Homo sapiens: one gene and its partners. The protein of the gene in region 4 purifies or fractionates together with the protein of the main gene of each other region. This does not show direct contact. Each region holds a gene or a part of one and is shown on either strand. Other genes may lie near its edges.

Evidence for each region. The genes of interacting proteins can lie anywhere in the genome.
Region 1: the proteins of GPR52 (region 4) and RETREG2 purify together in Homo sapiens (affinity purification with mass spectrometry; 2 studies listed by BioGRID and IntAct, with this or other methods). This does not show direct contact.
Region 2: the proteins of GPR52 (region 4) and LMBR1 purify together in Homo sapiens (affinity purification with mass spectrometry; 3 studies listed by BioGRID and IntAct, with this or other methods). This does not show direct contact.
Region 3: the proteins of GPR52 (region 4) and GPR89A purify together in Homo sapiens (affinity purification with mass spectrometry, with the first as the bait; 2 studies listed by BioGRID). This does not show direct contact.

What each region holds. Positions count from the first base shown.
Region 1 is NC_000002.12:219,181,275-219,183,624, forward strand, and holds part of RETREG2 (reticulophagy regulator 2), read left to right. Parts: intron 1-94; coding exon 95-189; intron 190-365; coding exon 366-501; intron 502-738; coding exon 739-1,355; 3' UTR 1,356-2,350. UniProt on the Homo sapiens protein: Endoplasmic reticulum (ER)-anchored autophagy regulator which exists in an inactive state under basal conditions but is activated following cellular stress.
Region 2 is NC_000007.14:156,886,684-156,890,183, reverse strand, and holds part of LMBR1 (limb region 1 protein homolog), read left to right. Parts: intron 1-3,500. UniProt on the Homo sapiens protein: Putative membrane receptor.
Region 3 is NC_000001.11:145,628,488-145,631,987, forward strand, and holds part of GPR89A (Golgi pH regulator A), read left to right. Parts: intron 1-2,199; coding exon 2,200-2,320; intron 2,321-3,176; coding exon 3,177-3,257; intron 3,258-3,500. UniProt on the Homo sapiens protein: Voltage-gated channel that enables the transfer of anions such as iodide, chloride, bromide and fluoride which may function in counter-ion conductance and participates in Golgi acidification.
Region 4 is NC_000001.11:174,446,608-174,450,280, reverse strand, and holds GPR52 (G-protein coupled receptor 52), read right to left. Parts: upstream 2,318-3,673; 5' UTR 2,170-2,317; coding exon 1,084-2,169; 3' UTR 736-1,083; downstream 1-735.

The DNA of each region.
Region 1 (2,350 bases), on a different chromosome or scaffold from region 4:
CTGGAATTGAGATCTTCTCCAGTTCTTTAGCTGTGTTTGTCTCCCCTCCCATCATTCATGCTTGGTCATTGCTCTACTACTCTTGCTTTTCTAGAGCGTCAGGGGAAGAATGCACCCCCAGGAGGTGATGAGCCACTGGCAGAGACAGAGAGTGAAAGCGAGGCAGAGCTGGCTGGCTTCTCCCCAGTGGTGAGGTCCAGGGAAAGCGGGGGTGTCAAATAGAAAGCCAGAGGAAAAATCTTTCTGCTTTGGAGCTGCCACCTCCAAAGGAGGTGGAAGCCAGAGGTTTTGGGAGAGGGGATGCTCCTGATAAATTGGTTCTCTTATCCCCTCACATGTCGTGTTCATCCTGGTTCTCCTGCCAGGTGGATGTGAAGAAAACAGCATTGGCCTTGGCCATTACAGACTCAGAGCTGTCAGATGAGGAGGCTTCTATCTTGGAGAGTGGTGGCTTCTCCGTATCCCGGGCCACAACTCCGCAGCTGACTGATGTCTCCGAGGGTATGGGGAGCCCTTTGCTGCCCTGCTCCCCGCCACAATCTTTGTGTTCCCTACCATGGGTACTTACTGTGCTCTCTGGCCCACTCACTCTCTAATTCTCTCAGCTCCTAAAAGACCTTAACACCTAAGGCTTGGCCCAGCTTTCCATGTCTTGAGTTCTCATCCTTGAACTCATTGTCTGTTGTGGCTAATCAGACCAGCAGCAGGCCCATTCTTAATTCTTTGTTCTCTGCACAGATTTGGACCAGCAGAGCCTGCCAAGTGAACCAGAGGAGACCCTAAGCCGGGACCTAGGGGAGGGAGAGGAGGGAGAGCTGGCCCCTCCCGAAGACCTACTAGGCCGTCCTCAAGCTCTGTCAAGGCAAGCCCTGGACTCGGAGGAAGAGGAAGAGGATGTGGCAGCTAAGGAAACCTTGTTGCGGCTCTCATCCCCCCTCCACTTTGTGAACACGCACTTCAATGGGGCAGGGTCCCCCCCAGATGGAGTGAAATGCTCCCCTGGAGGACCAGTGGAGACACTGAGCCCCGAGACAGTGAGTGGTGGCCTCACTGCTCTGCCCGGCACCCTGTCACCTCCACTTTGCCTTGTTGGAAGTGACCCAGCCCCCTCCCCTTCCATTCTCCCACCTGTTCCCCAGGACTCACCCCAGCCCCTGCCTGCCCCTGAGGAAGAAGAGGCACTCACCACTGAGGACTTTGAGTTGCTGGATCAGGGGGAGCTGGAGCAGCTGAATGCAGAGCTGGGCTTGGAGCCAGAGACACCGCCAAAACCCCCTGATGCTCCACCCCTGGGGCCCGACATCCATTCTCTGGTACAGTCAGACCAAGAAGCTCAGGCCGTGGCAGAGCCATGAGCCAGCCGTTGAGGAAGGAGCTGCAGGCACAGTAGGGCTTCCTGGCTAGGAGTGTTGCTGTTTCCTCCTTTGCCTACCACTCTGGGGTGGGGCAGTGTGTGGGGAAGCTGGCTGTCGGATGGTAGCTATTCCACCCTCTGCCTGCCTGCCTGCCTGCTGTCCTGGGCATGGTGCAGTACCTGTGCCTAGGATTGGTTTTAAATTTGTAAATAATTTTCCATTTGGGTTAGTGGATGTGAACAGGGCTAGGGAAGTCCTTCCCACAGCCTGCGCTTGCCTCCCTGCCTCATCTCTATTCTCATTCCACTATGCCCCAAGCCCTGGTGGTCTGGCCCTTTCTTTTTCCTCCTATCCTCAGGGACCTGTGCTGCTCTGCCCTCATGTCCCACTTGGTTGTTTAGTTGAGGCACTTTATAATTTTTCTCTTGTCTTGTGTTCCTTTCTGCTTTATTTCCCTGCTGTGTCCTGTCCTTAGCAGCTCAACCCCATCCTTTGCCAGCTCCTCCTATCCCGTGGGCACTGGCCAAGCTTTAGGGAGGCTCCTGGTCTGGGAAGTAAAGAGTAAACCTGGGGCAGTGGGTCAGGCCAGTAGTTACACTCTTAGGTCACTGTAGTCTGTGTAACCTTCACTGCATCCTTGCCCCATTCAGCCCGGCCTTTCATGATGCAGGAGAGCAGGGATCCCGCAGTACATGGCGCCAGCACTGGAGTTGGTGAGCATGTGCTCTCTCTTGAGATTAGGAGCTTCCTTACTGCTCCTCTGGGTGATCCAAGTGTAGTGGGACCCCCTACTAGGGTCAGGAAGTGGACACTAACATCTGTGCAGGTGTTGACTTGAAAAATAAAGTGTTGATTGGCTAGAACTGCTGCCTCCCTGACTGTGAGCTGCCTTCCACACCCTGCACTGCACTGTGTTCTCTCCTCACCCTTAACCTGCTTCACTCCAGTCTGTTCTGGCTGTTTATTACCTTGTTGCAAAACAGGGCCGAAGCAAG
Region 2 (3,500 bases), on a different chromosome or scaffold from region 4:
TTTTGTGTCTGGTGCAAGGTAGGAGTCATATTTTTTTCTCCCACAGGAATGTCCAATTGCTTCAGCACTATTTAGGACTTTTGTCACAGATAGGTAACTGTATATTCATAGGGTTTAATTTTGGACTTTATGTGGTTTTATTGGTCTATTTGTCTTTAGTTTTATTATTTTTTAAAATTTGAGACAGGTTCTCCCTCTGTTGACCAGGCTGTCGTGCAGTGGCGCAATCATGGCTCACTGCAGCCTTGACTTCCAAGGCTCAGGCGATCCTCCCACCTCAGCTTCCCAAGTAGCTGGGACTACAGGCTTGAATCATACAGGTGTGCACTAACAGACCCAGCTAATCTTTTAATTTTTTGTAGAGGTGAGGTCTCACCGTGTTGCCCAGACCTGTCTCCTGGGCTCAAGTGATCCTCCTGCTCTTTGGCTTTACTTTTAATTAATTAGATATTCTAGAATTTGGGTTGAGAAAGGGACACATTGTAAAACAGTCCAGAGCTTCGTCTACTCCCCTGAAAACGGTTTTGGTACCGATTATGGAGTTCTTTAGTTCTGACTCTCCTCACCTGTTTCCCTCAACCCAGTACCCCTGGCTGGTTGAGTCTACTCCATCTTCTACAGAACCAGCGCAGACAGTGACCAGGCTCAGGGTTCCCAGTCTTTGGCATTTCTTTCTCAAATGATTTATATTTAGAGTGAATGTAAATACTTTTTCTCTAAGACCTGTTGCCAATTTTTAAAATTATTCAATTCTTTCTGATTTTGCTACATAATGCTATAATTGCTTAACTTTTTTATCATAATAAGATATATATATATAACATGCAATTTACCATATCTAAATATACAGTTCAGTGGCGTTAAATACATTCACATTGTTGTGCAACCACCACCACTATCCATTTCCAGATCTTTTTCATCAACTGAAACTTGATACCCATGAAACAGTAACTCTCCATTCTTCACTCTCTCCAGCTGCTGGTTCTGCCTATATGAATCTGACTATTCCCAGTTGAACCATACAATATTTGTCCTTTTCTATCTGGCTTATTTCACTTAGCATAATGCCTTCAAAGTTCACCTGTGTTGTAGCATGTGTCAAAATTTCTTTTTCTTTCTTTTTTTTTTTTGAGACAGAGTCTTTCTCTGTTGCCCAGGCTAGAGTGCAGTGGCGTGATCTCGGCTCATTGCAACCTCTCCCTCCCTGGTTCAAGCAATTCTCCTGCCTCAGCCTCCCGAGTAGCTGGGATTACAGGCATGCGCCACCGCACTTGGCTAATTTTTGTATTTTTAGTAGAGATGGGTTTCACCATGTTGGCCAGGCTGGTCTTGAACTCCTGACCCCAGGTGATCCACCTGCCTCAGCCTCCCAAAGTGCTGGGATTACAGGTGTGAGCCACTGTGCCTGGCCTCATTTTTTAATTTTTTGTAGAGATGGGGTTTTTGCTATGTTGCCCAGGCTGTTCTTGAACTCCTGGCCTCAAGTGATGCACCCACCCTGGCCTCCCAAAGTGCTGGGATTACAGGCGGGAGCCAACGTGCCTGGCCCAGAATTTGTTCAGGCTGAATAATATTTTCTTTTTGTGTATACTGTATTTTGCTTACCCATTCATTCATCAATTGACCTGAGTTGTTTCTGTTTTTGGCTATTGTGAATAATGCTGCTGTGATCATGGGTATGCAAATATCTATTAGAGTCCCTGCTTTCAATTCAGAAGTAGAATTGCTGGATCATATGATAATTCTATGTTTAATTTTTTTTTTTTTTTTTTTTGAGACAGAGTCTCGCTGTGTTTCCCAGGCTGGAGTGCAGTGACTCAATCTCGGCTCACTGCAAGCTCCGCCCCCCCGGTTCATGCCATTCTCCTGCCTCAGCCTCCCGAGTAGCTGGGACTACAGGCACCCGCCACCACGCCCAGCTAACTTTTTGTATTTTTAGTAGAGACGGGGTTTCACCATGTTAGCCAGGAAGGTCTTGATCTCCTGACCTCGTGATTCGCCCGCCTCAGCCTCCCAAAGTGCTGGGATTACAGGCGTGAGCCACCACGCCCGGCCTCTATGTTTAATTTTTTTGAGGAACTGCCATACCATTTTCCACAGAGGCTGTACCATTTTATATTCCCACTAGCAAGGAGCCAGAGTTTCTGGTTCTTCCGCATCTTCACCAACACACATTGTTTTCTGTTTTTCTTCTTTTTTTTAAAATGGATGTGAAATGGTATCTGATGCTGGATTTGATTTGCATTTCCCTAATTATAAGTGAAGTTCAGCATTGTTTCATGTGCTTATTGACTATATGGACATCTTCTTTGGAGAAATATCTGTTCTTTGCCTGTTTTTGAATTGAGTTGCTTGATTTTTGTTGTTTAGTTTTAGGAGTTCTTTATATATTCTGAATATTAACCCCTTATCAGACATGTGATTTGCAAACACTTCTCGCCCATTCTGTAGGGTTGCCTTTTTACTCTATTGCTAGTGTCCTTTGATGCACAAAAGTTTTTAATTTTGTAGTCCAATTGATCTATTTTTTCATTTGTTGCCTGTGTTTTTTTGTGTCATATCCAAGAATTCATCACCAACTGGCATCATCACCAACTGGCATCATGAAGGTTTTCCTCTAAGAGTTGTATAGTTTTAGCTCTTAGGTTTAGGTCTGATCCATTTTGAATTAATTTTTTTGTACAATATAGTGTTTAACTTTTTTTTTTTTTTTTTTTTTTGAGATGGAGTCTCACTCTGTCGCCAGGTTGGAGTGCAGTGGCACAATCTCAAGGCTCACTGCAACCTCCGCCTCCCGGGTTCAGGCAATTCTCCTGCCTCAGCCTCCCGAGTAGCTGGGACTACAGGCGAGCGTCACCACACCCAGCTAATTTCTGTACTTTTAGTAGAGACGGGGTTTCACCATGTTGGCCAGAATGGTCTCAATCTCTTGACCTCGTGATCTGCCGCCTCGGCCTCCCAAAGTGCTGGGATTACAGGCGTGAGCCACCGCGCCCAGCCTAGTGTTTAACTTTTAAATACTCATGTAATAATTTTGTCTTTTGTATTATGAATATCTCATAGTTCTCTTGTCAGTTGCTTTAGTGATCATATTTGACTTTGGCTATTAGTATCAGGTAGTAATGATTGATTTCCTTTCTTTTGAGAGCTAGCTATGAAATCCTAAGGCTGCCAGCTAACTGAGTATACCCTCTCTTGGCTAAGGGGACCCCAGGAAACCTTAAAAACTGAATTCCCAACCAGAATGGGATGGGACATCTGACACGCCTCAGTATACCCCCTCCCTTTTGAGGTTTAAACACAGCTGACCAGCATTAATGTTAAAATAGAGATCTGAAGACTGAGAGAACAGACTCTTTGTGGCAATAAAATACCCAACTGTGAACAAAATGTAGGGCCATGCCAGGCAAGGGTTAAGTAAAGCATCCCCTTAAAGAATAAACTGGTTCTAACTGCCTCAAGGTGTTTCTTTTTTTCTAGCGGCTAAACAAGCACTGGCC
Region 3 (3,500 bases), about 29 Mb from region 4:
AGACTCTGGAGCTAGACTGCACTTGAATCCTGACTCTGCCCCTTTTATCTGTGTGGCCTTAACTAAGTTACTTAACCTCTCTGTGCCTCCATTTCTTCATCTGTAAAATTAGGTTTTCAATAATATCTACCTCATAGGATTGTTATGAGGGTTAAATGAATTAGAACATGTGAAATGCTTAGAACAGTGCCTAGTCATAGCAGGTGCTTGGTGAATATTACCTATTGCCATTACAATTACTAGTGAAAGTAATTTCATTCAATAAAGAAGAATGGGAAGAAAGCTGGATTGCAGTCAGTTAAGGAATGAACTGGAGGTGAAGAAAAGGTGACAATAACTATAAACTTCTTTTAAGAAGCCTGGCTATTAAGGAGGAAATAGATGGGGGTTGGTAACTAGACGTAAACTCGAAGCCAAGAACAGAATTTCTCTTAGAAAAGAGAATTGAAACTAAAGAGAAAGAACTAGCAAAGAAGGAAATATTGAATATACAAGAGAGAGGAGACAGATGATGGAACAAGACTCTGAAAGAGGTGGAAGGGATTGAATACAATCAAAAGTATGGTGACTGCTAGTTCCAAGATGGTGGCGTAGGGGCAAGCTGGCTTTGCTTACCCCCCTGGCAGAAAACCAAAAACAAATAGCACCAAGATTATCACTAGCAATATCCCAGAACTCACATATAAGGATGAGACAGTTCCCAGGGCCCAGAGAAGATCAGAAGCACAAGTGGAGAAGTCAGCTTTGGATGCTACTTTGTTCTAAGGGAGACAAGTTGGGAGGATGATTGCAGATGTATATTCAATGTTATAAAACAGCCCATAAAACAAAGATTGGAAAATGTTGAATTTTGCAACCAGGAGAAAATTCATGACCATAGTGTAGAGTGAAGGTAGTTTATGGCTAATAGCTATGTCTTTTATAATAAGGACATTGGCAAAGGAGAAGGACAAAGGTAGGAAAAATAAAGAGTAACTGCCGAAGACAATGGAGAGAGATGGCTGACCAAGGGCAAGATAAGGATTAGTCAATAGTGTGAGAGCTCTCTTAGGACTGGAGACCATACATTTGTAATGGCTCCAAAATCAGTACGCATTCTAGCAATTTGAGGCAGCAAAACATGGGCACAGGGAAGGCAGAGTGTTAGACTGATCCAGAGTTGGGAATTTGTAGGATTAGCGCTTCAGAAGGAAGATAGTAGGAGATTGAGGCTCCTGGTGAGAGAATTTGAAGCCAGCAAGCCTGGAGTCCAAGCTAGGTGAAGAATGGAGAAGCAGAAGACCAGAGGTTGCACTGACCTCTAAAACGAGTGTAGTGGAAATAGAAAGACTAGGAATGGAGGCCAGTAGTCAGAAAAGGAATATTGGAATTTTCAGTTTTGAAGCTGACAGAATTCCTGAATTATAGCTCTGGCATTTGACCATAGGAGTGGATGGCTGTAGTGAATTCTATCCTAGAAATAGAAAGTGAAAACCAGTTAAAACCATTCTTTTTCTGCAATGCCAAACTTACTGAGTTATTCTTCAGCATTGCTTTCTCTCATTTATCCCAAATACATCAACCAGCAGTATTTATTTTAACTGCTAAGTTGATTTTCAGCATTCTCACGTGATATGAAACAATTGATAATTAGGATACAATTTATAATCCGAAACTGATGTGTTTGCCTTTGAATTACTCATTCATCTATAAGTTTAGTCCTTTTATTAGATGAATTCTGTGTTTATTGGATGCAAAAAAGAATAAGACAAAAGCAAAAGAGTATCACCTTAGGGGAAATACATATATATCAAAGATAATTAGCACAAAGTAGTTCCTGCTATTTATACTTTTCCAGCAGATTTACTTTCTTAGTTTTTTTTTTTTTGGCCGATGCTTTTACTAAAAGTACTTTGCTTTGTTAGCATTCATGCTACCAAGAGTAAACAGTCAATGATTGTTATTTATAATTATTGTTGTTATTATTTTACTGCTATCACCCAATAAAAGAGATCACTCTGAAGCATATGGGACAGGAGGAAAATCAGTAAACTTTTAGTATATTTATTATAAATCATCTACACATTAATAATTAAAAGTTGGCTTGTATGAGTTAGTTATGTGTAATGGTTAATGTTTTAAATAATGTTTCCTTTTGCAGTACAGATGAGAGCCATTTTGTCTATATTACCTGGCATTAATGTGCCTTGATGTTTTTAGGGATCTTATCCATAGAACAGCTCATCAGCCGGGTTGGTGTGATTGGAGTGACTCTCATGGCTCTTCTTTCTGGATTTGGTGCTGTCAACTGCCCATACACTTACATGTCTTACTTCCTCAGGTAACAGAGCGCTTTGCATCCTTTCTTTTTTGCCCCATTACTTCTTGAATACATATGTCATATTATGCCACCATCTTTAAGATTATATATTAGATCTATGACACTGTCTTTTTATTCTTCTCTTCCTCTGTCCCTGTGGGCATTGACCTGGAAATCTTTCTAAATAAGTATTATCACTTGTACGGCTTGCCTTTATTATTTGTCCTACATTCATTTATTTTTTAAATGGCAAATTTCAATCTGACACTCCCCTCCCACTTTTTTAAAGGCACATTTCTAGTGACCAGCAGTATAAACCAACTCCAACTTCAGCAGTTCAGCTCCCCTCCTAGATATTAACAGAACAGTAGAAGACAATGCCAAGTTAAAAGTGTGCTTAAACATACATCCTAAATGTCACTGAGCTGAGATCATGCCACTGCACTCCAGCCTCGGCGACAGAGCTAGACTCTTTCATAAATAAATGACGGGTTGATGGGTGCAGCAAACCATCATGGCACGTGTATACCTATGTAACAAACCTGCATGTTCTACACATGTATCCGAGAACTTAAAGTATAATAAAAAATAAAATAAAAATATTTAAATATATATTTTATATATATATATAAATGTAACTGGATCAAAGCTAAGAAAAACTGTAAGAGAGCTGGGTGAATTCCATTTCCCTGAGATCCCAGAGGATTAGCTATAAGAAATGAGAGCAAAGGCATTTTAGTTTATTATGGTCATTTTACTATTTTCTAGAAAAAAGTAGTAGGTAACAGTTGAAGTCTATGTTTGTCTCCAGATACCCTGTATCATGCCCAAGAGTGGGACCCCAAAACATTTTGCTAGCAGTTTGTGCTTTTTGTAGGAATGTGACTGACACGGATATTCTAGCCCTGGAACGGCGACTGCTGCAAACCATGGATATGATCATAAGCAAAAAGAAAAGGTAAGATATCAACACTGTAATACATTTGGACTCTTACAATTTCTCAACAAGAAAATTTGACTGTGAATTGGTGCTGGCAGGGAATTTTATCTTATTCATTTTTACTATAAGGTAAAGTACCAGATTTAGTGTTGGCTGGACACAGTGGCTCACACCTGTGATCCCAGCACTTTGGGAGGCCACGACGGGGGGATCATTTGAGCCCAGAAGTTCGAGACTAGCCTGGGTAACATAGTGAGACCC
Region 4 (3,673 bases):
TAGACCTAACACAAAAAAGATTCATGTTTTATTTTATTTATTTATTTTTAAAAAGGGCATTCTAAGTACCCTTAAGAGTAATACCTCACTGCTGGGTGAGTATCCTGCATCTGCATTACAATTACTAGTGGGTTTTCTTAAAGAAAAACAAAGCTTTACTATAGCAAAAAAAAGACATCACTTTTAAGCACATGAACTAATTTAAAAGGAACCAGATAAAAATGTTTCCAAAAGCCATTAAAAATATTTAATAAGCTACCAGATTGCTTTGCTGGAAGAAATACATTATTTAACATCATGGATGCTCTATACAGTAGATTCTTTCAATAGCTAAGACACTTCTAAAGTAAGGTACCAATGGATGCAGATCAAGAAAAAGAGAGAAAAAAAACAGGAGACTGTTAGGAAACCAGGGAAAAGCAAATGTCATTTTACCCAGAAGAAACAAAAATACTGTTTCTATTTGTTTATAGCAGAAAAACTGTGCTGCAGAGAACATTATAAAAACACAAGCAAAGGGGTTGTTTGGCAAATAATAAAATGCAATGCTTACTGTGCATCCTCCATGAAGAGATCACTTATGGATTATAGATTAGTGTGATTAAAGGTACACTTTGATGCAAAAGATTATACTTTACCACATATATAATATGTAGCACTTTTCTACAAAGGGCAGTTTATGTAAGTAATAACTTCCACAAAGAGTGAGAGAAACATAGACAAAATGAGAAAGACAGAGGCAGGGTACAGTCAGACAGAAAGACAGAAATGCTGAGCCAAGGGGCTTGCTCATGTCCTGCAGAAGATTTGAGATATTCTTTTTCATCTCAGTGCTTAATTTTTCCTATTACTGCACACTAATACTCACATGCTATAATTATTTCATGAGCTAACCCTCTATACATCCTTCCCTTTAGTTTCTTCCATGAAAAAGAAAAAAAAAGAGAGAAACCTTTAGTCTCATACTTCATTTTACAGTCAACTATTCAAGTAAATATTTCTCTGATGGCAAATTTCCAGATGAATCTAGAATATGATCCAAAACCACTGTCAGATTACATTTGATTTACTATGTAGCTCTCTTCAAATGGAGCAAGAATTAGCCCGTTTCCTAGGTTTGGGTTCTTGTGCTTCCTGATCCTTCACACACATACAGGATGTGCACATTGTCTCAGACAGTCTTCGGAGGCCTAGCCGGAAAACGCTGTTGGAGAGGCTGTATATTACACAGTTACAAAAACTATTACTTATTGCAAGCCAGGTTGTTAAGAAGGACAGAGTTGGATTGTCCAAGACCCGGGAGCTTTCTAGAAGAAAGTAAATTATATAGGGGAGCCACAGCATATAAAATACACTGGTTATCCTAAACAAAACCATGGCGTAGCGACGGTCAGGGCTGTGTCCAGTCTCTCTGGAAGAATCTACCTCATGACTAGGGAATCGGGCTCTTCGGTCATTTATCTCTTTGGTGTGCTGACGGCAAATTTTGAAAATGTGGAAGTAAGTGAAGCAGACAACAAAGGCAGCAGGAGCATAAAGTAAACAAACAATAAAGCCAGTAAAATAGGCACTGGTGAGCCAAGACGTGGCACACCATTCAAAAATGTCACCATGGTAACCAGGTTTCCCCCAGCCAAAAAAGGAAGGCAAGAAAATTAGGCAGGAGTAGATCCAGATCAAAATAATGCAAATTCTCAAGCGACAAGGGGTGACCAGTTGATTGTAGGAAAGAGGCTTGGTTATTGCAAGATAACGATCCACACTGATGCAAGCAAGACATGCCATAGAAACACTTTTTAGAACTGAGATGATATATCCAAAAACCTGGCAAGTCAATGACTCGTGGACACCTGTGGAGTAGTGGAGAAGTGACAGAGTAGGAACCAAGCAGCTAACTCCAACGAAAAGATCAGCATATGCCATCGTCTGAATGAAATAGCTGGTAGTATAATGATGTAACAGTGGAGCACAATGAAAGACAAAGATAACTGTTAGATTCCCAGCAATGATCAGAAATGTCAGCAACACAATAACCACTGTCTCGAAGATGCAGACATCCACCACACTGTAGTGGCCAAATCCAAGTGGGCAGGAGTGACGCTCGGACACATTCACAATGCCACTGCTCATGTTCAGGATCCTCCATTCAGTCCACCTGGATTCATTCATGGCTTGGAAATTTAAAGACACCTGCAGACTTGGCTACAGCAAGCAGATGCCCTGCCCAGCATCTGTTAAACACCGCACATGAGTGTTTCAGAACCTGCTTCAGTAGACAGTGTCAGTGCTTCTGTCACAGCTGAGAGTCCCAGAGAGTGCTCAAGTCTCTTCACCAGCCTCAGTTCAGCAGTGACACACCTCAGCTTTCGGGCGGGGGGGTGGGGGGGGGGCGGTAAGGGGTGGAGAGAAGGGGATAAGCTAGAAAGGAGGTGAAAAGAGGTCACTAATTAGTTTCCTCTGGTGCCCTCAAAGAACTTTTTGCAGACATAAGGCACTTCTAGAGAAAATAGACTTCTTATTATCTTGCACTATGAAAAATTAAATCTGTAAAAAGAAAAAAAATGAATTGCCAAAGGAAGAAAAGCTTCTGTGGGCTGTTCTCCTAAGAGAGGCAGTTTCTTAGGGAGCAACTGGAAAGAATGAGAAAAGAAAAACTCTGAAACTGTCTCAGGCTTCCTGCTTTATCTATGATGAAAAATGCATTCATATTTTAGATTTTAAATAATTTAAGATCTCAAATTTGGTTGAAAAGCTAAGAAAAAGTTCATTGTGGCAAAGAGTGTCTTTGGGCTTAGTTCAGGGATTGATGTTGGGGGGTCAAATTTATAACCTATTTCTCATTTTTCTAAAATCTAAGAAAAACAACTCTATCAAAGTTAATTTGAAAAGATTCATCTCTACATGGGCAGAATAGAGGTAACAAACAGACTCCAGATTGCCCTATAACTCTCATGAGAAAAAAGTATTTTCCAATAGAAAAGAGAATATACAATGAATTAATGAATTAACACCTGGCAAAATGTAATAAACTTCTGAAGTTTTAATTCTGCATGCATTTTTAAAGCATTTAGATGAAAGCAGTTTTAATCCATTACAGTTACTGGTGGTACTAACAGCAACGTAACTTATACCTCTTCCTTTTCAAAATGAATTATTTTTGCTATTAATTTGGCATCTATAACTTAAAATAACATTTGTTATTTCATATACCACCTTCCTTATAATGGAGCATGATAATAAAATATGTAGCTCACAGTTATTTCTCACCTTTGCAACTGTATACCCATATCTCACATATATATGTAAATATAAAGTTAGACAATAAAACTTTCCAATATACTCCGAGCTTATTTGACCAGAAATGCTGCCATTATTTATTACTTAGGTATTTCTAATAGGCTTCATGTTCTATGTTGCTATACCTTTTCTATTTTCAGTAGATGATTTAACACATTAAATCATTACTTCAACTATATCTTCTGAAAGTGGAAAATTACCTTGTTTATTACATTTGCAGTTATGTAGCAGCCATATGTTAAAAAATGCCTCTTCTATTTTTCTGTACTCTATTTTGAGCAAGTGCTCAATTAACACAGGGGCCATTAGGTAGGTTGCAAGATAGTCTTATTTTAAAATACCTCTAAAGTATCAAGATGAACTTTAAATCCTAGAG